Homo sapiens: one gene and its partner. The protein of the gene in region 2 interacts with the protein of the main gene of each other region in a biochemical or structural test. Each region holds a gene or a part of one and is shown on either strand. Other genes may lie near its edges. The genes, in order: CRYAA and CRYBA1.

Region 1 (12,316 bases), on a different chromosome or scaffold from region 2:
TGGGAGGAGAGGAGATAGGGGCTGTGGCCAGCCTGGGATGGAGCCAGGCTCTGAGCCCTGTATGGACAATCTCTCAGGCGTATCTAGCCTACCCCAGGCCAGAGGTGAAGCAGCCCCAGGCCCCTGAGTTTAAGAACCGCCCGGGTGGGGTGTGATTGGAGAGCCGAGGAAGGATGGCATCAGGAGGCCCCAGGAGGGGAGATGGGAGGTGTCACGCTGCATGTCTTGGAGGCCAGATGAGATGAGAGCCCCTCCCCCCACCCCCTCCAAGTCCTTGCTGAGCCTGTGCTGCTGGAAGACCCAACTGGGGGAGCAGAGGAGATCAGACAGCCCACCAGCCAGGGGAAGTTCTGCCTGGGCTGGCCCTGGTGCTCCGTGCGACTCTCCAAGGAGCCTGATCGAGGATCTGGTGAACCACCCACGGGCCTTGCAGACCCTGCCAAGGCCTAGCCAAAGGCTATGTCTTTGGGCCTGAATGCGTCGGTTCCCGCAGCTGCAACGCCACAGCTGCGGCTCCAATGGCAGACATCGTTTCTGCCGGGTCCTGGAGGCCGGGAGTCCAAGGTCAAGGGGCAGCAGGGCCGGTTCCTCTGGGGCGTCTCTCCTTGGCTTGCAGACAGTGTCTCCTCCCTGTGCCCTCACGGGGTTGTCCCTCTGTAGGTCTGTGTCCTCATCTCCTCTTCTTACAAGGACACCGGCCAGACTGGGCCAGGGCCCACCCCAGTGACATCACTTCAATTTAATCAAAGCCCCCACCGCCAAACACAGTCCCATTCTGAGCCTTTGGGGGTAGGACCCCATATAATTTTCAGGGAGTCACCTTCCAGCCCCTAACAAGGTCCAGGCAGGACCCGCAGTCAAGCAAGGCTGCAGGCGTGAGTGACAGCTCCATTCACTGTGCAGCCGGTGGGACGGGACCCGGAGCTACCAGATGTTGGGGTGGGCCCGCCTCCCTGCAATGGCTGCCAGGCTGTGCAGAGCAAAGGTGTCCGCTCAGCTGGTCCGGGACAGACCCAGGAGGAGCAGGGAGCCCCAGACACCCCGATTTTCAAAAACATCCAGCCGCAGCCCCAAAGCACAGTGGGTCATGTTGTTGCCAACCACAGGGCACCCCCTTCTGTACAAATGGGGACTCGATGGCACAACAGCCGGGCAGGTCCTGCTGGAGGGAGGAGGAGGGGGGGAGTCTAGGGGAGCCACTCCCAGGACTCAGAACCCGTCACACCACGGCCTGGCCAGAGGAATACAAAGAGAGACAAAGGGCATGGTGTGTTGAGGGGTGTGTGTGTGTCTGTGGTGTGTGTGGAGTGTGTTGTGTGTGGAGTGTGTGGTGTGTGTGTGTGGAGTGTGTGGTGTGTGTGCTGTTCAGTGTCCGTGGCACGTGATGTCACTGGGCGTCACTATGGCCGCCCACGCTAATGCCTGTTGCTGACTTTTTGAAAACCCGTTGGTGTCAGTGTCTGTGTTCTCCCGGGTGGAGGCTGCGCCCCTGTGGTCGTCCTGCTGGTGCCATGGGGGTCCCAGTGCCTCAGGGTCCCGGTGCCTTCGGCCTCCGGGGTCGAGGGCGCTTTACTTGGCTGAGGGCGCTGGCAGGGCCCACCCGCCGTGGCGTCTGCTTCCCCTTGGGTGCCCTCTGGCCCCCCGGATGCCCCTCGGTGAGCGCAGCAGGCAGCCAGGGCCCCCCAGGCCGAGTCTCCCTCCCCGTGGCGGGGTCTGGCATGGCCGCCCAGTGTCTGGTCCCGGGAGGGGACAGAGCGAGCTTCCGCCTCCAGCTCGGGGCCATGATGGGTTGCCCAGGGGAAGCTGCCGAGTTCCACCTCCTCAAAAGCACGAGTGCCCTTAAAGCCCAGCCCCGAAGGCAGCAGGACCCCCGAGAGAACAGGACGACCCAGCAGACCCCGAGAGAACCGGACGGCCCCGCAGAAGGAGGCCAGGGCTGGCGTCCCGCCCCGGTGCCGGCGCGGACAGAGAAAGGAGCCCGGCCTCCCTCCATTCCCTGCAGCCCCTTCCAGGTCCCTCCCCGCCCCCAGCTCTCGGAAGTGCTCCCCAGTCCCTTTCCCATCAGAGGCTCTGCCCCCAAAACCTCTCCTTCCAGCCCAGTGTGGAGGGAGGCGCTTGAGCTCAGGAGAAGGAAGGGACGCAGGCGACCCCATCGTTCCGAGGCCACCGGGTCCAACGCGAGCAGGAGACCCCGCTGTCCTCCCTCCCGGCGCCGCCCTCCTGCCCCTCGCGCCCCTGATGGAGACAGCACCAGCAGACGGCGGGTTGCTTGTATCACCTGCTGTTTATTGATTGCCGCGGGCTGCGCTCTCATGGGCGACCCATGTCCCCAAGAGCGGCACTACATAGAGGGGTTGGAGGAAGACGGTCTGAGAGAAGAGGCCGCGAGAGCCCAGGTGCACAGAAGCCCCGGCCCCACGGGCCTCACGCGCCCCAGGAGGTGTGGGCAGGGCCCGCCGCGGAGGGAGGCTGCAGGTGTGTCAGGAGGCACCTGGCCGGAGGTCACCCCCTCCTTCTGGACCCTCAGCAGAGTTGAGGCGCCTGCACCCCAGGGGAGCCAGGCTGCTATCTAAAGGAGTGTGAGGTGCGGTCACTTCCGCCACTGGCCGGTGTCGGGGTCTGGGACACCCTGAGACCCTAAGCTCTCCTGGCTGCTCTCTCAAACCCTCATTCCATGTGAGAAGGTGGAAAGGAAAAAAGGGAAGCAAAGGAAGACAGACACCCCGCCCTCAGGGTGCTCCCCCCATGATGGGCCAGGGCTGCAGGGGAGCCAGCCGAGGCAATGCCTGCTTAGGACGAGGGAGCCGAGGTGGGCTTCTCCTCCCGCGACACGGGGATGGCTCGCTCGGCGTGGGTGGCATCCAGGCCAGTCTGGATCTTGGGGCCACAGAAGGTCAGCATGCCATCGGCAGACAGGGAGCAAGAGAGGGCCGACTGGTCCACGTTGGACGGCAGGCGGTAGCGGCGGTGGAACTCACGGGAAATGTAGCCGTGGTCGTCCTGGAGAGGGTGGGGGCGCACAGTCAGGGGGGCCACTGTGCAGGCGGCTGCCTCGCCCCATGCCAGAGAAGCTGCCCCAGCCCCACTGACTGCAGAAGGGGGCCAGCCTGCGGGGGCTCTCACAGGGGCCGGGTGCAGCCAGCACATCCCATGGCCAGGCCCCCTGGGATTTATGGATTCATGCCCCTGCTTCTCTGGACCTCAGCCTGGCCTCGTGGCCACTTGCCGGGCTATTCCCCGCGGGGGGTTGTCTCTTCCCGCTCCATGGCTTCACTCCAAAATCGCAGGATCATTCCAGACCAGGCCCCGCACCTCAGCCAGTCTTCCCCTTCCAGACCCCGCAGGACTGCTCTAGCCCAGGTCTCTGCAGCCCTACCTAATGTGGCCAGACGACCCACATGCTTCCACGTCCCCTGGACGCCCTAAACCGCAGACTCAGCTCCCTGGGCTGACCTCCTCCTCCACTGGGTGCAAAGACCAAGAGCTGGGAGCTCAGGAAGCATGTTCCAGGCTGGCTGGGGCTACGTGGGGGCTTTACCGGGCCCAGGCGAGGGAGGGGCAGCACATGAGGAGGTCAGCGTTCACCCCCCAGCACCACCTTCTCCAGCCATTGAAAGAGGACCCTGGCCAAAAGAAACCAAGACTTTGGCTAAGAGTTCCACCTTCCAGCCCCACTCTGCTCTCCAGCCCCCGCGGGGCACTGTCCATCTGTGACAGTCCATGAGCTCTTCCCGGCTCCGCCAGGAGATGCAGGTCACCAGGGCTCCAGTGCCCCGGCTCCCTCAACACCACGGAGATCCGAGGCCTCCAGCCGAGCAAGAGCGGGGCATCAGGGTGACTGTGGGGAGAAGCTCCCGTCCACCTGCCCGGTACTAGCTGTGGGACCCAGCAGGCTGAGGACCCCCTTGTTCCCCAGCCGTGCCCTGGAATAATGAGGACACTGGTTCCAAAGTGCTGCTGTGAGGCGAAGGTGTCAATGCCTGTAAAGCATTCCAAGCGGATGCAGCTATGCCGTCGGGGACTGGCTTCCTCAGGTAGGGTTCATGTGAAGATGTACACTGGCTAGGAGGCGGCCACCCGGGGCACTCCCACTTCCTGGGGTTCTTTCTAAGACCACCCTGGCATCCAGGTGACAGGGATGGAGCTGGCGACGGCTGGGTGCAGCCCGGGAAGGGACCCTAACCTGGATCCCTGAGCCACATTAGCTCGGGAATGGTGACCTCTGTCACCGGGAGGGGCTGGCTGTGCTCAGGTGGGCACGGCCCCTCCCTTGGGGAAAAGCCAGGCCTGATTCGGGGTCCCCTGGAGAGCGTCCCTCTCCCAGGGTTGAAGGCATGGTGCAGGTGTGCAGGCCCGGTCGTGCCCGCCGTGACCCCCTTGTCCTCGCGCCCAACTCGCCCCCCTCTCCCACCTCTCAGTGCCTGGGCTCACCTGGCGCTCGTTGTGCTTTCCGTGGATCTCCACAAAGTCGTCCTGCACCTTCACGGTGAGGTCCTCCGGGGAGAAGTGCTTCACATCGAGGAAGATGACGAACTTGTCCCGGTCGGATCGAACCTGAAATCCAAACGTGCCATGTGGAGCTGCCCAGAGGGTGCCGTCCCTGCTGGGGTTGGCAGAGACAGGGCGGGTCCCGGTTATCAGAACAGAGATGCTTCGGTCACCTGCCGGCCTCTTCTCCCACACACCAAGTGGGGCAGAGCTTTCGGGGGCCTGTGACTGTCTCCTGGACAGACAGGCATGACCCTCGACCTGTCTCCAAACCCTCAGGGCCAGCTGAGGGGCTGAATGCTACTGGTGGGCCGGCTGGTTGTTTGGCTATGGTCAGGTGGCTGGTTATAGATAAGTTGGCTGGTTATGGGCTGGCTGGCTACTGGTTATGGTAGGAGGGGTCGTTACGGGTTGGTTGGTCCGTTAGGGTCAATCGTCTGGCTGGTGATGCTTGGCTGGCTGGCTGGACTCAGCCTGTGGAATGAGGTCACTGCCCTTGGTGTCATGCTGTCTATAGAAGCGGCCGGAGCCTGCTGACAGCCTGCGCAGCTGCCTCTCCAAAACGCACTTCCACATGCTCCTTCTCACTCCCCTGGCTCAGCCTTGGCTCCCTGAGGCATTTTGCACCCTGGCGTTGATGCCTACTGCAGCAGCCCTGGGGAGGACCCTGTTTATGAGGTGCTGGGTGGGACTCAGGCCCTCCAGAACAGCAGAACCTGCACCGCTCACCCGTGGCTCAGAGAGGAGGCCTGTGGTTGGGTGGGGGGGGGGGCGTCCATTGCCTGTCCTTTTAGCCTTGGCAGGGCACCTAAGTAAACTTGCCAAGAGCTTTGCTAGCCGTGGGCAGGCCGAGCTCATTGGAGGAGGTGCTAGGAACGCCCTGCTCTCTGGCTTTCAGGACTATGACCCCCACCTGCTCCCAGGTCTCCGGGACTCAGGAGACCAGAGGAACCCGGGAGCTGGCATTCGCCACCACGCATGCCTGGATGGGCTGCTCTTGGGGTTTCCAGTATGTGGCTGGTGCCTTACAAAGCACACATGGGTCATGAGCTGATGGAGGAAAGCAAAGGTGGATTCAGGCTGCTCCCTTGTCCACCCTCTCCCCAGTGCCAGGGGAAGCTCTGCCACGTGGCTGCAGTGGGGACACAGGCTCTCGCCCAGCCTCTGCAAGGGGATGAAGTGGGACGAGGCCACCTGCCTGACGGAGCAAGACCAGAGTCCATCGCTCTCCACCCACCGAGGCCACCACCCTCTGAGCAGCGAGGAGAGGCCAGCACCACGGGCCACGTCTTACCTCAGAGATGCCGGAGTCCAGCACGGTGCGGAAGAGGGACTGGCGGTAGTAGGGGCTGATGGTGGACGACAGGAAGGGCAGCAGGTCATACTCAAAAAGGCCCTCGCCGAAAAACTGGTCGAACAGCCGGCTGGGGTAGAAGGGCCCCAGGGTGCGCTTGAACCAGGGGTGCTGGATGGTCACGTCCATGTTCAGCTTTGGTACCACGGGGACCTGGAGGCTGGCAGGAGTCAGCGGGGCCTCTGGGCAGCGCAGTGTGGAGCCAAGGCCGAGCCCTCCCTATATATGCCACCAGCAGAATGGAGGCATTAAGGGATTTCTCTGGAAAGGCGTGAGCTCATGAAGAAGGCTGCTCAGTCAGCAGAAACGTGGCTGGGACAAGTGCCCGCCCCCAGCCCCAGGAGGGGCTGCACGGACTGTCCCCGAGGCCTGGACTCAGCTGAGGCCCGCCTGGGCACCCTGGGGCTCCCGGGAGGGCAGACAACCCAAGGAGGCGCCTGTGCCCCATACTCGCCTGGGGCGACAATGGAGCTTCTCATCTGCCAGTCACTGGGCAGGGGCTACGTGCCAGGGACCATGCTAGTTCTCTGCACACCTTGTCCTGCCGGGGTGGTCCTCATGGTCGCCAGAGGAGGGAGAGCACACACCCCCGTTAGACACAGAGGTTAGACACATCGTCCTCAGAGTCTCACCGGGCCTGGGCAAGAGTGCACTGGTTTCCAAAGCGGAGTGCATCTGTGAACCTCCGTTACACTCACCACTTACAAAAGTACGCATGCTTGTTAAAACTCGTGGAGAAGAAGCTGCAAGGTGCCATAATTCCAGCACCTGGGGGAGCCCTATGGCGTTTCATGCTTGTCCTCCAGGGGTCACATGCCTCCAACAGGAAGACGGGCTGGGCTGTGGGCAGATGAGAGCACCACGTGGTGAGCTTCCCTCTGCGGCCCACCCTGGACGCCCAGCCCCATGGCCATCGTCCCCTCGATGTAACGCCTCGAGCGTTACATCTCGTAATGATGTAATGCCTTGATGTAACATCCCCACGTAACGCCTCGAGCCTCCGTGGCATGACCTGCCGTGGCTGTTGAGTTGGGCTGCTCCTGTCAGGGTGGCGACATGTCCCCACGTCCCTGTCACCCATGCGGACCCACCACCCACATGATCCTGTTATCCACAAGTCCTGGTGATTATTTTGCTCCTCGACCCATGGCCCCTGTCCAGTTCTCACTAAGTGTCCAGGCACTCCCGGTTTTGTTTGTTTGTTTTTGAGATGGAGTCTTGCTGTGTCACCCAGAGTGGCGCCCAGATCATATAGTGGCGCGATCTCAGCTCACTGCAACCTCTGCCTCCCAGGTTCAAACAATTCTCCCACCTCAGCCTCCTGAGTAGCTGAGACTGCAGGTGCCTGCCACCACACCTGGCTAATTATTATTATTATTATTATTATTATTATTTTTGTATTTTTAGTAGAGACAGGGTTTCACCGTGTTGGCCAGGCTGGTCTCAAACTCTTGACCTCAGGTGACCCACCTGCCTTGGCCTCTCAAAGTGTAGGATTACAGGCGTGAGCCACTGCACCTGGCTCACTCCTAGTTTTAAGTCTTTTGATATTTTGGTATTTTGATATTTTGGTAAACTGGCCCTGGGGAGCATGGTCCTCCCCCACATCCCCCCTGCCAGCCTGGGAAGAGGCCATGCCCCCTCTCCCAGGCTAGCTTTTCTAGTGTACGGTCCAGGCTGTGGGAAGTTGCCTGGTTCTCTTTGGCCTCCTAGTTCCTACTCAGCCTCTAACAGATTCGTGCGTGTGGAGTGAACACACACCCAGGACACTCCCGGGCTTTGCAAATTCATCTCCAGCCCATGGGCTCAGAAGGCCATGAAATGTCAGATGCCCCAGTGTATGCGGATCAGACCTGACACATCCCAGATGGGATCAGGGATGAAAGGGGGGGCTCCGAGGCGTGCTCCACGGGGCACCTCCATCATGAGCAGCACCCATGAGCAGCACCCTTCCTCCTACATTTACAGCACTGTCCGGGGACACAGGATCCCAAAAAATCTTGAAATGATAGCTTTTGCCCTGCAAGGTTACAATTCCAGAGGAGCGATTCCCTGGGGTGCCAAATTAAGGTGCAGATAGGAAACGCTGGGAGAGTGATGGGTGCTTCCCCCGAAAGCCTACACCAGACCTCTCTGCCTGTGGGTCCTCAGAGCCACCCTGTGAAGCAGGTCCCAGCATCATTCCCGCTTCATAGACCAGGAAATGGGAGCTTAGAAGGTTAAGCCGCACGCCCAGGTCACTTGGCTTGGAAGAAGGGAAGGGGGTTTAAAGCCACCTTTCCAGTCTGGGGGTCAACATCCAAGCAGTGGCAGGGTCTGGGTGAGGCAGCGGGCGGCCCCACTGTGCTGGCTGCCTATTCCCGGGGCACAGGGAGGGGGAAGAAGAGTCCTTTGGGATGGAAACCAGCATGGAGCTTGGCCCTGGGGAGGGTCGAGCCAGGCCAGGAGCACGGTCAGTGCTGGGCAGAGCCATGCTGGAGCTTGAAGCAAAAGGAGAAGGCCGTCGTCCTCATCCTGGCTTTATGTAAAATGTTGACAGTTTGTCCACCACAAATTTTTTGCATTCATTTTGATTTACTTATTTATTTTATTTATTTATTTTTGAGATGGAGTCTCGCTCTGTCGCCCAGGCTGGAGTGCAGTGGCACAATCTCAGCTCACTGCAACCTCTGCCTCCCGGGTTCAAACGATTCTCCTGCCTCAGCCTCCCAAGTAGCTGAGATTACAGGCACACACCACTACACCCAGCTAATTTTTATATTTTTAGTAGAGATGAGGTTTCGCCGTGTTGGCCAGGCTGGTCTCGAACTCCTGATCTCTGGTGATCCACTCGCTTCGGCCTCCCAGAGTGATGGGATTACAGGCGTGAGCCACTGCGCCCGACCCATTTTGATTTGTTTAAACATTGCATCAAAACATGATTTAAACATCAGAACATTGATGGCAGTGTTTTTAGTGCCCCTGACACTTGGCAGGGAGGGAGGAGCTGTGCTGTCCTTCACAGCTGGCCCTGCACATGGTCAGTCAAACAGTGGAGACTGCAGGCTGAGGAGGCAGCTGAGGCACCAACCTGGGGCTGGGCACCAGCCTGGTCCTATGGACTGCACAGCTCTGGGTGCCGAGGATGGGGCAAGGTCCTCAGACACGGGGCAGGGCAAGGTCCTCAGACACGGGGCAGAGCAAGGTCCAGGCACTCACACCTCTTGCGCCCCTCACCACACGCTGTAGGGCCTGGCGGCTCAGAGGCCGCCGTGGGACGTCGAGGCTCTGCCACAGGATTGGCCGGGCCTGCAGGGGGCTTCTGAGTGAGCCAGCGCCTGAGTCTGCACAACAGAAGCAGGAAGGCCTGGACCGGGGGCAGGGAGGGCTCTAGGGCCCTAGGGGCCTTTTCAAACCCCGAGTTTAGGTGTTGTATTAGTGTCTTGTGGCTGATGTACCAATCACAGACTTAGTGGCTTAAAACAACACAAACGTCTTCTCTCACAGTTCTGGAGGCCACAAGTCTGAAATGTGTCTCATTCAACTTAAAGCAAGACACTGGCAGGGCTGGCTCCTGCTGGAGGCTCAGGGGAGTCTGTTTCTTGCCTTCTCTGGCATCTCAAGGCACCTGCCTTTCTTGGCTCGTGGCCCCTCCTCCACCTTCAAAGGCAGTGGTGGGCGGTGAGGTCTCTCCCATCACATCCACCTGGCAATTACGCTCTCAGCCCACCTGGATAATTCAGGATCACCCCCACCACATCTCAAAGCCGGCTACTTTCAGGAGCCTTAACCCCCACTCGCTGGCCCGGAGCCTGCTGTGCAAACATCCTCACTTAATTGATCCACACTGGTCGAGTCCTGTCTCTTAACGCTGTGTTAAACAAAGTCCCTGCTTTTCTGGAGCTGATATTCTCTTGGGTAGAGACAAGCAACAAACAAGTAAATGCACGCTGATGTCAGTGCATCCGCCTGCCAGAGCCCTGCGCCATTCGCCTGGATTCTGGGGAAACAAGACCCTTTTGCTCTGGACCTGGGCTCCTCCTGAAATTTGTGTTGAAGATGCTGCCTCAAAGCCACAGTGTGCAGGTGGCGGGCAGGGGGAGGTGACAGCCAGTGCACTGAGGGATATGATGTCTGCGGAAAATGAAAAACCAGAATGAAACCAAAGACAAGTCAGTGTTCTTTTCCTGATTCCCAGCCACTGTCCATGCAAATCATGTCAGCACAAAATCCCCTTTTGCTGGGCTAAGTTCTAGCAATTGCTGCATTCATAGCAGTTGTTTCTAGAGGTAGGGGTGTTCTATAAAGCTGCTGTGAGCACTGAATTAGTGATGCCTGGACTGCTGAACCATGGCTCCCAGGGGAGACACAGGCTTAGGGTCCTGCGAGCCTCTGGCCCCAATGTTCTCATCAGCTGAGCAATGCATCATTTGTCTTATGAGTGTTTCTGTGTACAGATGCTTTACTGAGGCCAGGCGTGGTGGCTCACGCCTGTAATCCCAGCACTTTGGGAGGCCAAGGCGGGTGTATCACCTGAGGCCAGGAGTTCAAGATCAGCCTAGCCAAAATGGTGAAACCCCATTTCTATTAAAAATACTAAAATTAGCCAGGCGTGATGGTGCAGGCCTGTAATCCCAGCTACTTGGGAGGCTGAGGCAGGAGAATCGCTTGAACCCAGGAGGTGGAGGTTGCAGTGAGCTGAGATCGTGCCACTGCACTTCAGACTGGGCAACAGAATGAGACTCTGTTCCAAAAAAGAAAAAAAAAAAAAAGATGCTTTACTGAATCTATAAACATTGATTCACTAACACTGAACTCATGGCCAGCAGCCCTGTAGCTCTGCCCGAAGGAAGCTTCTCTAACCCGTGTTTCCTCTGTGAGATGCACTGCAGCTTGCTTACCTTTTGCAGTTTTGTGTGTTTTGTTCGTGATTTTGCTGTTTAAAATGCCCCCAAGCACAAAGCTGAAGAGTAACCAAACAGTAACCAAAACTGTCTTTGGGTTTCCATTTGTATGGCATATTTTTAGAAATCTTTTACTTTCAAACTATTTGTGTCTTTGAATCTAAAGTGTCTCTTGTAGACAGCATATAATTAGATAATGTTTTTAATCTGTTTGGACAATTTCTGCATTTTAACTGAAGTGCTTAATCCACTTACTTAAAAATGCCTCCAAGCACACAGCTCTTCAGCACTGGGCTTGGGGACGTTTTAAAAAGCAAAATCACAAACAAAACACACGAAATGCAAAAATCATGGCACTAAATAGACCTCAAAAAGGATACTGGTTGACCGCCTGAGGCTGAAACAAGAGGGCATAGTGCTGCCTTGTTCAACCTCACCCAGGAATATGTGTAAGGAGACAAATGTCTCGGCACTCTCTACACATCTGTGAATGACCAGGAAAACTCTGCAATTATTGATTTGGGGTCACAAATAAATTTTTTTGGTAATTTTTTTGTAGGGACGGGGTCTTGCTTGCTATGTTGCCCAGGCTGGTCTTGAACTCCTAGGCTCAAGCGATCCTCCCACCTTGGCCTCCAGAGGTGCTGGGATTACAGGCGTGAGCCACCGTGCCCAGCCTACAAATAAATTTGACCAAGTAGGTGTCATGGACTGAACTGAGTTCCCAAAAAATTCCTGTGTTGAAGTACTAACCCCAGGACCTCAGAGTGTGACTGTATTTGGAGATAGGATCTCTCAGGAAATTAAGTTAAAAGGAGGTCATTTGGGTGAGCCCTAATGCATGTGACTGGCTTCCTTATAAGAAGAGGAAATCAGCTGGGCGCGGTGGCTCACGCCTGTAATCCCAACACTTTGGGAGGCCAAGGCGGGTGGATCACGAGGTCAGGAGTTCAAGACCAGCCTGGACAACATGGTGAAACCCCGTCTCTACTAAAATACAAAAAAATAGCCAGGCATGGTGGCATGCACCTGTAGTCCCAGCTACTCGGGAGGCTGAGGCAGGAGAATCACTTGAACCCGGAAAACGGAGGCTGCAGTGAGCCGAGATTGCACCACTGCACTCCTGCCTGGCGACAGAGTCTCACTCTGTCTTAAAAAAAAAAAAAAAAAAGAGGAGGAAATCTGGACAAATTCCAAAAAGAGACACCAAGAACACATGCACACAGAGGAAAGTCCACATGAGGGCACAACAAGAAGAGGCCCGTCTGCAAGCACAGGAAGGAACCGGCCCCACCGACCCTGCGATCTTGGACTTCCAGGCTCCAGGACTGTGAGACAACAAATGTCTGTTGTTTAAGCCATCCAGTCTGTGGTCCCTGGCACACTGACATCACAGGGAATTCCCAAATCTGGAATGCATGAGTCATGAGGATAGACTATATTTCTGTAATCTTCACATTAGCACAGTTTTATTTCTTGTTCTAAACATTTACTGAGTGGAAATTTTCCAGTGAACTTCCAGTCATGGGGCCACTCCCGACACTGCAGACGCAGCCACCTGCATTGGCTTGGAGCGGCTTTGAAGGGCGGG
Region 2 (9,961 bases):
TTTATCAGCTTTACAAATCATTGGATGCTCTTCCTTAGTAATATTTTGGTTTATTTGATCAAATAGAAATGGAAAGTAATTCAAACTGAAAGACCCTTTTTTGTCATATGGAACTTGGTGACGATTTTTTGTCTTAAAGCTGGTTTAAAGGTAGGATAGGCTTTTACCTTTATTGCTTTAGCATAAATTTGGTTTACTGAATTGACTGGCTTGAGATTAGAATTATTCAGTTGTTTGTAAGATCAAAGCACTGGTTGTTTTAAAGATAACGTGTATCTTTTAAAAAATTGCCCAAGCTGATTAGAACAAGTTTAGGAGTTGGGTACATTTGGTTCAAGTGCTGCAATCTGTATGTACTAAATAGCTTTACTTTGTGTATGTGTACTTATAATGTGTAGATGTACTACTACCCAGGTTTTGTCAAATCATCTTTTTTAAAGTTTTTTTTTTTTTAATTGGTTCAGGACCTTTGTAGGAGAGGCTAATATGTTTAAGTAGAAGATATTACTGATAGCATTTTCCCCATGCTCCTACATAAAAAATAAATATTTCCATTTTATAGCTTTTTCAATATACAGAAGAGGGTTACTTCTTCATCAAGTATATTGTTGCCTTTGAGGACACAGCAAAACCCTTCTATATGTATCTTCATTGATAGTGGCAGTTAAAAACTAAGTTATCCAGTTAAGACTTAAAAGGTGACCCATATTAATTGCATGGCCTTAAAAGGCAGAAATGCAGGAGTGTAGCAAGCATCATTTTAGATGGCTATGGTTCCTCTTCCGCATCTGTCAGTAGTTCACTTATGTTCAGTCTTAGAACCTACTGGAGGAGTGAAGTAATTTCTCTGTCTCGTGCAGAGGCACTAAGGAGCTGAGTTACCTCTTAATCTGGGGGAATGGATAATAAGTGGAGTACAGTTATGTTAAAGGATGTTCCCCCCGCTCAAAAAAAAGTTTCAATGTTTGTTTTGCCCAGTCAAAAATATAGGTCTTTTCTACATATAAGAACAGTCACCAGAAATTTTCCCTTTTGCTAAATGCTTAGGTATTTGCTATAGCTGTTTCTGATGTCATGGATTCTGAGGAAGTGTCATTTACGTGATGATCTTCCTTTATTGATGTCTTCATCATGTTCAGTGTTTTAAAAATATAAATTACAAACACTCTACAACCATACCCAGATTTACTTATTTTATCAGAAAAAAAACTTGAGAAATTTGTAGATCAAATTGAGAGACAATAAGTGTACATTGTTGAATAAAAAATTTTAAAGTTTCTGAGGTGTTTGTTATCTTTTGTGTGCTTTAATTTTTTAAAAAGTCTTTACTGACTAATCTTAAATTCAGCTGATAAAAAGTAAAAAGAAAAACAAACCGAAAACTAAGTTTGTGACATTGATAATGATTTTTTTCCAAAGGGTCAAATATGTGAAGAATTTAAGTCTTCAGTATACTATGGTCCTATGATTTTAAAAAAATTTTTTAATCATACAGGTTTTTACAGTGCTTAGAATTAGCTTGCTTATTGAAAAATCCAGAGCTATCCTGCCTTTTTGCAGGACATTAAGCCTTATGCCCTTCCAATTGAAATAAATCAAAATTGAGCTAAGCAGTTGAGCAACTAGAATGTTAAGTTGCCAAGATTCTGGATTTATTCATAACTTTATGTTGAAATATGTGGCAGTACACACTGGAGAAACTTCCTGTTTCTTTAGTACTGATTTGTCACAAGGTGAAAGGAAAATCAATGCCAACTTCAACATTATTAGAAAGAGCAGGAGACGGGAGGAAAGGACATAAAAACATTTACCAAAAGTGTCAGTCGCTATAGAGATTGATAACATTTAGGTCATATGCTTTATTGTTCTTTGAGATAAGGAATAATTGTCCTTGGCCTGGTGAGTGACTTGCAAGGACACAAAAGAGAATGTGGAGTTTTATGGAAGCTTGACTTAAAAAATTCTCATCCAGACAGGCGCAGTGGCTCAACACCTGTAATCCCAGCACTTTGGGAAGCCACAGTGGGTGGATCACTTGAGCCCAAGAATTCGAGACCAGCCTGGGCAACATAGTGAGACCTCATCTCTACAAAAAGTACAAAAATTAGCCAGGCATAGTGGCAGGCACCTGTAGTCCCAACTACTCAGGAGGCTGAGGCAGGATCACTTGAGCCCAGGAGAATGACGCTGCAGTAAGCCAGATCGCACCACTGCACTTCAGCCTGGGTGACAGTGAGACCCTGTCTCAACAACAACAAAAATTCTCATCCACAGGCCGGGCGTGGTGGCTCACGCCGGTAATCCCGCACTTCGGGAGGCCGAGGCGGGCAGATCACCTAAGGTCGGGAGTTCGAGACCAGCCTGACCAACATGGAGAAACCCCGTCTCTACTAAAAATACAAAATTAGCCAGGTGTGGTGGTGCATGCCTGTAATCCCAGCTACTCGGGAGGCTGAGGCAGAGAATCACTTGAACCCGGGAGGCGAAGGTTGTGGTGAACCAAGATAGCGCCATTACACTCCAGCCTGAGCAACAAGAGCAAAATAACTAAAAAAAAAAAAAAAATTCTCATCCACTTAGGTGTGATTTATGTGAAGCATGGTAGTTAATTCAGTCTACAAAGTTTTTTTTTTTTAAATGACGTTTATTGTGGATTTCAGCAGCTAACATTTGAAAGCAATGTCTGTGAGCAGAACATAAAACTTATTCTAGAGTGCTTAGCAAGGTCTCATGCTTGAGGAATTATCGTACTTGGAGCTTTTAATCAGCTACTGTTGGATTCGGCGAATCGATTGGATCTGCGAAGTCTGGGCATGAGAGCCCCACTCTCTCCAATGTTTATAGTCTCCTCCATGATGGTCACATTCCAAGATATACTGATACCCACGATATCCAGGATATTGGTAGCAAACCCAGCTAGGAAATTCAAAGTACATTTCATTATTAAAACTAATTAGGAATCTGGTTAATACCCCAAAACCTGAGCCTCTTTACTCAACACAATGGTATGAGATGCTTTTAGGCTTAGAAAAAATAGCCATCCTAAATGTGTCAGGCACTATTTGTAAGCATAATATGGCTATAGCTAGTTAATTAGCCTTAATCATCAAAACAGGTATAAGTAGTCAACGTAAATTCTTCCATAGAGGCATGTCTGGGGGAGATAAATCTGCAACCTAAAGTGGTAGTTGGTATAAAGAAATTGAGATTCAAAATTATGTAGAACTAGAATGTGACATCTATACCGATACGTATGAAATCTGATTAAAACATAACTATTGATGCAACCTCAGGAGTTACTTTGAAGTATATTCCAACCCTGTTTTTGTACTTACGCCCCACTTTGTATCTTCATGGAGCCGACTTCGTTGTTGAACCAGCCCATGGCTTGCAAGGAGGGGTAGTCGTCAGAGATCTCCCACTGGCGTCCAATAAAGTTTTCCTTCTCAAAGATGGTCATCTTAGACTCCTTATGATTCTGTAATTCAGAAATTGTTTTAAAATGTTTAGTACTAGTGCTATGGCTATCATTCTTCATGTTTTTCAAAATTGAAACACTTTTGGATTATACAAGGAAGCACATGATAATTTAAAAAGATTAAGGCAACAGATTTGTGAGAAAAAAGTTACCCATAATTTTGTTTATTCCAATTTAAATACCATAACATTTTGAATGTACAAATAACTGATATACTATTTTGGAACAATGAAGAGGATTTGACAGTGAGAAAAAGTACTAACAAAATGCAGCCAACCAAGGGATTAATATTCACTAATGTGAAAAAAGATCTCACAGATTATTACAAAAAGTAAGCCCAAATATGTATGTGTGCGCTTGCGTGTGTATGTGTGTTGTTGGATATAACCTGTATGTCCAGTAGGGGACATGAATACTACACAAGCATTAAAAAGACAGAGACTAACCTGTATGAACTTCAAAAATGGACAAAACTGTTTGGTAATAGAAAGTGGTAGGGGAGCAATTGAGTGGAAAGGGACACCAGGGAACTATGATGGAATGTTCTTTATATGGTTAGGGTGTTGGTTACATGGATCTATATATTTTTCAAAAACTCATGAGAATATTCACTTAGGGTCTGTGCATTTTACTGTATGTCAGTTATACCTTAGGGTGGGCAAATGAAATGTTTTTAAAAGTGAGATTGAAATAATTTCCAGACAGGCAACTATTTATTTGGATTAGAACTATTTAGGTTAACTTCTCCACCAGTTGAATTTTGGCAAGACTTTGAACCAAGATGAGATTATTAACCAAAATCACGAGAAACTCTCACATAGACTGAATATTTGGAAAGGTTCTAGCCCAACCTAACTCCTAATACAGGGATCATTTTCAACACACCCCTTAAGGTCATTCTGCTTTCTGCTTGAACTGTTTCCAAAGACCAGAAACATCCCAGCCTGATGCATTATTGAGTAATACTTAAGTGTTCAGAACAAGAAGATTATTATCAATCAGTGTAGATCGATACTGGAAGACTTGCCTATTTCGTCAGTCATTCCCACTTACTGAAAGGTTACTTCAGCATTTTCCTGTTTCTGCAGTAAAAATGTTACACAGATTGAAATTTAACTGGCCAAGGATTTACTTTTTGCTGCAGGGTAAGCACTTTCACTCATTTACTAGTGTTTCACAAGTTTACTGGGCTCTTGAGTATCCACTTATTGCCACTTGTAAGACCCTTAGTTTTAGCTTAAGGGAAGTACCACCTGGTGGAGAAAAATCAAATAGCAGGCTTAGAGAAGAAAGTGATGTTTTCTCTTTTTTTACTTTTGTCTTTTTTCCTGCCACATTCAGCATAACTGATGATAAATAGCATGAACGTCAGTCTGTCCACACCCTCTTGTCCCATCCCTCATATGCACGGAAGTGGAAATTTCAGAGACTCACAGCTGAACAGATGGGGCGGAAGGACATGAGACGCTCAATGTGGTAGGCATTACTCCCACTCCAGGCATCCCAGCGAGGGTATTCTCCTCTCTCCAGGATAAACTGTTGCCCACAGAAGCTGGTATGCTCATAACCAATCCAGCTGCCAAAGACATGTAGTGTTTGTTCATGGTGTTCAAAGCCTATATGGCCTTGGGGAGAAGGCATCTTTCGTTTTAGATAAGTCAATAGTGGGGTAAAATATCAAGCCAATCCCAGTAGAGCTGTACAAAGTAATTTGTCACAAGAGTTGAGGAATGAGTTGACAGGTATACTAAGCAGGTTAGTGAATGTAATATTTGTTTGGGGGTTATCACTGAAAAGGTCTATCTACTTCACTGGTCTGAGTGAAGTGTATTAGCAAAGCCAATCTAAAATTATATTTCCTGGCTGGGTGTGGTGTCTCACGCCTGTAGTTCCAACGCTTCAGGAGGCCAAGGCAAGCAGATCGCTTGAGCCCATGAGTTGGAGACCAGCCTGGGAAACATGGCGAAACCCCGTCTACAAAACTCAAAAATTAGCCAGGCGTGGTGACCCACTACTGGCAGTCCCAGCTATTCAGGGGGCTGAGGGTTGAGCCTTGGAGGTGGAGGCTGCAGTGAGCCATGATTGTGCCACTGCACTCCAGCCTGGGCAACAGAGTGACACCTTGCCTCAAAAAAAAAAAAAATTTTTTTTTCTTTTTCTCCAAATCACCTATTCTCTACCTGTTTCAGGATCTAGTGACTGTTGCAAGCTTGTCCAACCTGTTGCCCAAGGGCTGCATGCAGCTCAGGACAGCTTTGAACGCAGCCCAACACAAATTTGTAAACTTCCTCAAAACATTATGAGTTGTTTTTGTTGTTGTTAGGTCATCAGCTATCGTTATGGTATTTTATATGTGGCCCAAGACAATTCTTTCAGTGTGGCCTAGGGAAGCCAAAAAGATTAGACACCCCTGGACTATTGCTTTGGCTCAAGCCAAACCTGTTGGCTTCTTCTTAAGAAAGCACAGGGATGAACAAGCAACTGATGGATTACTAGTCTTTTTTCTTCCTGTGACTTGCGAGTTCTTTCTCCTAGTGCCCCATACCTGTACTTAAAACTTGAAACACTCAGCTCAGTTTTTCACAACTGGGTCTCAGTTAGTGATGACACCTTAAAGTGTTACATCTTTTAAAGGACTGAAGAGCTTAATTTTGGTGGCAAGCAACTTGTGGAAGCCTATCCACATGCAAGGCCAATTCTGCCTAGTCAAGGGTGAGTCTTTTCCTTAGGTATTTTCAGGCTAATGATAAAGGCCTCAACTACTCTGCCAAGAGTCAGAGGACAAAAATGAGAGGGTCTCCCTCACCAAGATTAACCATCAACAAGAAACTGCCTGAAAGATGAATCAGGAGCTAATATGTCTCTGGAGTCGTGGGGTTAAGGTTTTTTTTTTCATAAAGAAATTAGCTAACAGTGTCTGCTCTGGGATATGCAGGAGGAGAGTTAGCCATGAAGAGGCAGCCACTTGACACTTTCTTCTCTACCAATTTTCTGCAGGCAAGAAAAACTCAAGGGTCTTGTGGCTGTTCTGAGGGCACCCTAGGTAGCAGCCTGTGAGCTCCAGAAGCAAAATTTTGATTACTGCCACTGTCCCACCCCATTGTATGTATTTCTTTATCCAGCCCCTGAAATCTAGTACCAAGCCACTAAGAACCTCATGTTCCTTCCTTCTAGCTTTGGCTTACTAAATTATGCATGTAGTGATTTCTTTCGAGGCCTGTCTCCGAGAAATGACTAGAGCCTAGGGGAACATCCTTCTTCCCCTATCCCCACTCTATGGTCCCCTGTCTGAAGGGACCTGAAATAAGGGGCTGCGGTTCTGCGGAAGTCCATACTCACGCGCCACTTTCCACCTTCAGGGACCGGACATTATCAAAACTGCGCTCAGAGACATTTGGACAGGAGCTGGTGAACTCCATCCTCTTGCCCTGAAAGTTCTCCTGATCATAGATGGTTATCTGAAATGAGATTGAATGGCGCAAGAGAGCTAGAACATCAGGAAAAACAGAGGTCCAGGTCAACAGCTTAACTTCAGTCTGACTCTGTGCTTTCTGTTACCAGCTGTAGCCTGGGATGCCTGATGAGGTCTCTTCCAGTGTAGACAGGGCAGGAAGGGGTTTGAATTAATGCCACTGGTTGGTGTTCATTTGCCCAGAGTAGGGATGAGGTGGAGGGAGGATTGGTTTATGATAGAAATGGTCTGCCAGGGATAATATCTAGACCAATGGACAGGCCAAGGACTTATGGGCTCCCATTCCACCACAGTTCCTTCATAAGCATGGCCCAGAGGCCAGGATTCTGGGAGTCCCAGGAGCTCCTTATAGATTCTTAGCTTCTCCAGCCATACCCCCTATAGAAACCTAGAGTGTAAAGGAGAGTTATGGTCAACCCTTTTTGTACATTGAACTAAAACCTGGCTCGTGGACCTGGCCAGAGGACCACTCGCAAAGCTGTGAGCTGGCCTCAGAGTTGACCCAATGAGGAGAGTGGGGAGTGTTGGAGAGAGGCCAGTGAGAGGCCTGAGGATCAGCCACTTCGGCCAATGGTTAAAGCCAACCTCAGGATGGGAGGCTGAGTCCTGTAATTTATTTGGGATCTAGTAGTAAATATCTTTATGGGCCCTCATTTTCTCCATGGACATAACTGTTGCTGGGCTGCTGTATTTTAAGATGACTTTAGTGGGGAGGAGAGAGGAGTTAGGAAACTAGGTATCATCTCCCACCCATCAATGGCATCCACAGTCATCCTTCCTTTGTCCAGTGGGACATCCTGAGAGATCCTTCCTTCGACAGCACTGGAGCTTGTGTGGACCTTTCCCCTACAAACTGGGGTTTTTCTGGTCAGTCACTGCCTTATGGACGAGCACAGGCCTGGGGCCTGCTCTGTGCAGCATGTCACCCCTGCCCTGTTGGATGTGATGGGGGTGGGCTTACCTTCCATGGCCCCAGGGACCCCGGCGTAGGGTTGGTCTGAGCCATCTTGGTGGTTGGAAGGGTTTCTGGAAGACAGAGCACACACGAATGATGTGGCCTCTTGGGAGGAGGGGGAGGTGAGGGAATGCCTTGAAAGGTAAAGGAGACTTGAAGTCTGCAAGACAGACTTTGGTTGAAATTCTGGCTCTGCTGCTCACTAGCTGTGCCTCGGGGTTTGTTGTTGTTGTTGTTGCTATTTTGAGACAGGGTCTTTCTCTGTCATCCAGGCTGGAGTGCAGTGGCACAATCTCACTTCACTGCAACCTCTGCCTCCTGGGCTCAAGTGATCCTTCCGCCTCAGCCTCCCATGTAGCTGGGACTACAGGCATGCACCACTATGTCCAGCTAGTTTTTGTATTTTTAGTAGAGATGGGGGTTTCACCATGTTGGCCAGGCTGGTCCCAAACTCCTGACCTCAAGTGATCCACCGCGCCCAGCCTGAGCCTCAGTTTTTCCATTGGTAAAGCTTCGACATGCAGTTATTGTAAGGATCAGAAATAATAGGCCGGGCACGGTGGTTCACGCCTGTAATCCCAGCACTTTGGGAGGCCAAAGCGGGCGGATCACCTGAGGTCGGGAGTTTGAGACCAGCCTGGCCAACGTGGTGAAACCCCGTCTCTACTAAAAATACAAAAATTAGCCGGGTATGATGGCACACGCCTGTAGTCCCAGCTACTCGGGAGGCTGAGGCAGGAGAATCGCTTGAACCCGGGAGGCAGAGGTTGCAGTGAGCTGAGATCGTGCCACTGCACTCCAGCTTGGGCAACAGAGTGAGACTCCATCTCAAAAAAAAAAAAAAGAAAAAAAACAAGGATCAGAAACAATAATGCAGGTAAAGCACTGAGACCCTGTCCTCTCACTTGCTTTCAGGTGACAGCATTACCTCTGTCTGCAATATAAACTCTTTGGCAACCACCTAGGCCAGACCCCTCATGTGACTGGCCAAACAGCCAGCCATGCCAGGATCCCAAGCCCCAGACTCCCTCGTAACCCTTCACGGTCTCATCCTTATCTGGCCTCTTTCTGCTTTTCTTTTTCTTTTTTTTTTTTTGAGATAGAGTTTCACTCTTGTTGCCCAGGCTGGAGTGCAATGGCGCAATCTCGGCTCACCGCAACCTCCGCCTCCCAGGTTCAAGCGATTCTCCTGTCTCAGCCTCCCTAGTAGCTGGGATTACAGGCATGTGCCACCACGCCCGGCTAATTTTGTATTTTTAGTAGAGACGGGGTTTCTCCCTGTTGGTCAGGCTGGTCTTGAACTCCCGACCTCAGGTGATCTGCCCGCCTTGGCCTCCCAAAGTGCTGCGATTACAGGCATGAGCCACGGCGCCTGGCCATTCCTTTCTGCTTTTCTATCTCCTAGATCCTACCCAGCCTTGACCTTGCCTTCTCAGAGGCTTTCCTGCCTTCTCCAGCCCACAGCCACTTGCTTGCTTTCTTGATTTATAGCACTCATCACAGTACCAATCTGTGTTCTGGTTGGATGTCCTGGTGAGCACCTCAATGGCAAGGCCTCGGTCTTCTAGGGGATTGGTATAGCATCGTGCTGAGCACATGTGGAGATGAGGGATCAGGGGGACATTGAAAAAGACTTATTGAAGGAAAGTGAAGAAGAAAAGAGTTATAATACTTACACTCAAAAATGGCTATCTACATGTCCGGCCCTGTTTTAAATGCTTTACATGCATTCATGCATTTAATCTTCACATACAGACTATGAATTAAGAATTATCATTATCCCCATTTTACAGATGAGGATACTGAGGCTCAAAGAGGTTAGGTAGACAGTGAAGATGGTAGGACGAGTTTTAAAAAAGGAAGGACAGAGCAAGAAAGAGGAAGGAAAAGTGGGGGAGGAAGGGAAGAAGGAAGACAGGCAGGTGTGTATTAGGTTTCTTAGGACAGATATTCATGGCCCTCCTCCTGGCTGGTATTGGGCCCAGGAATGATGCATGTCAACTCTGTAATATATTTTTCCATTCTGAATCTCTGAATAAGCAACATTTCCCAGGTC

Evidence for each region.
Region 1: the proteins of CRYBA1 (region 2) and CRYAA form a complex in vitro, tested with the Homo sapiens proteins (2 studies listed by BioGRID).

What each region holds. Positions count from the first base shown.
Region 1 is NC_000021.9:43,162,755-43,175,070, reverse strand, and holds CRYAA (alpha-crystallin A chain), read right to left. Parts: upstream 6,064-12,316; 5' UTR 5,972-6,063; coding exon 5,783-5,971; intron 4,836-5,782; exon of another isoform or gene 4,740-4,835; coding exon of another isoform or gene 4,662-4,739; intron 4,555-4,661; coding exon 4,432-4,554; intron 4,035-4,431; exon of another isoform or gene 3,489-4,034; intron 3,001-3,488; coding exon 2,791-3,000; 3' UTR 2,266-2,790; downstream 1-2,265. UniProt on the Homo sapiens protein: Contributes to the transparency and refractive index of the lens. In its oxidized form (absence of intramolecular disulfide bond), acts as a chaperone, preventing aggregation of various proteins under a wide range of stress conditions.
Region 2 is NC_000017.11:29,247,157-29,257,117, reverse strand, and holds the end of CRYBA1 (beta-crystallin A3), read right to left. Parts: intron 7,977-9,961; coding exon 7,912-7,976; intron 6,937-7,911; coding exon 6,818-6,936; intron 5,055-6,817; coding exon 4,913-5,054; intron 3,479-4,912; coding exon 3,336-3,478; intron 2,917-3,335; coding exon 2,769-2,916; 3' UTR 2,624-2,768; downstream 1-2,623. UniProt on the Homo sapiens protein: Crystallins are the dominant structural components of the vertebrate eye lens.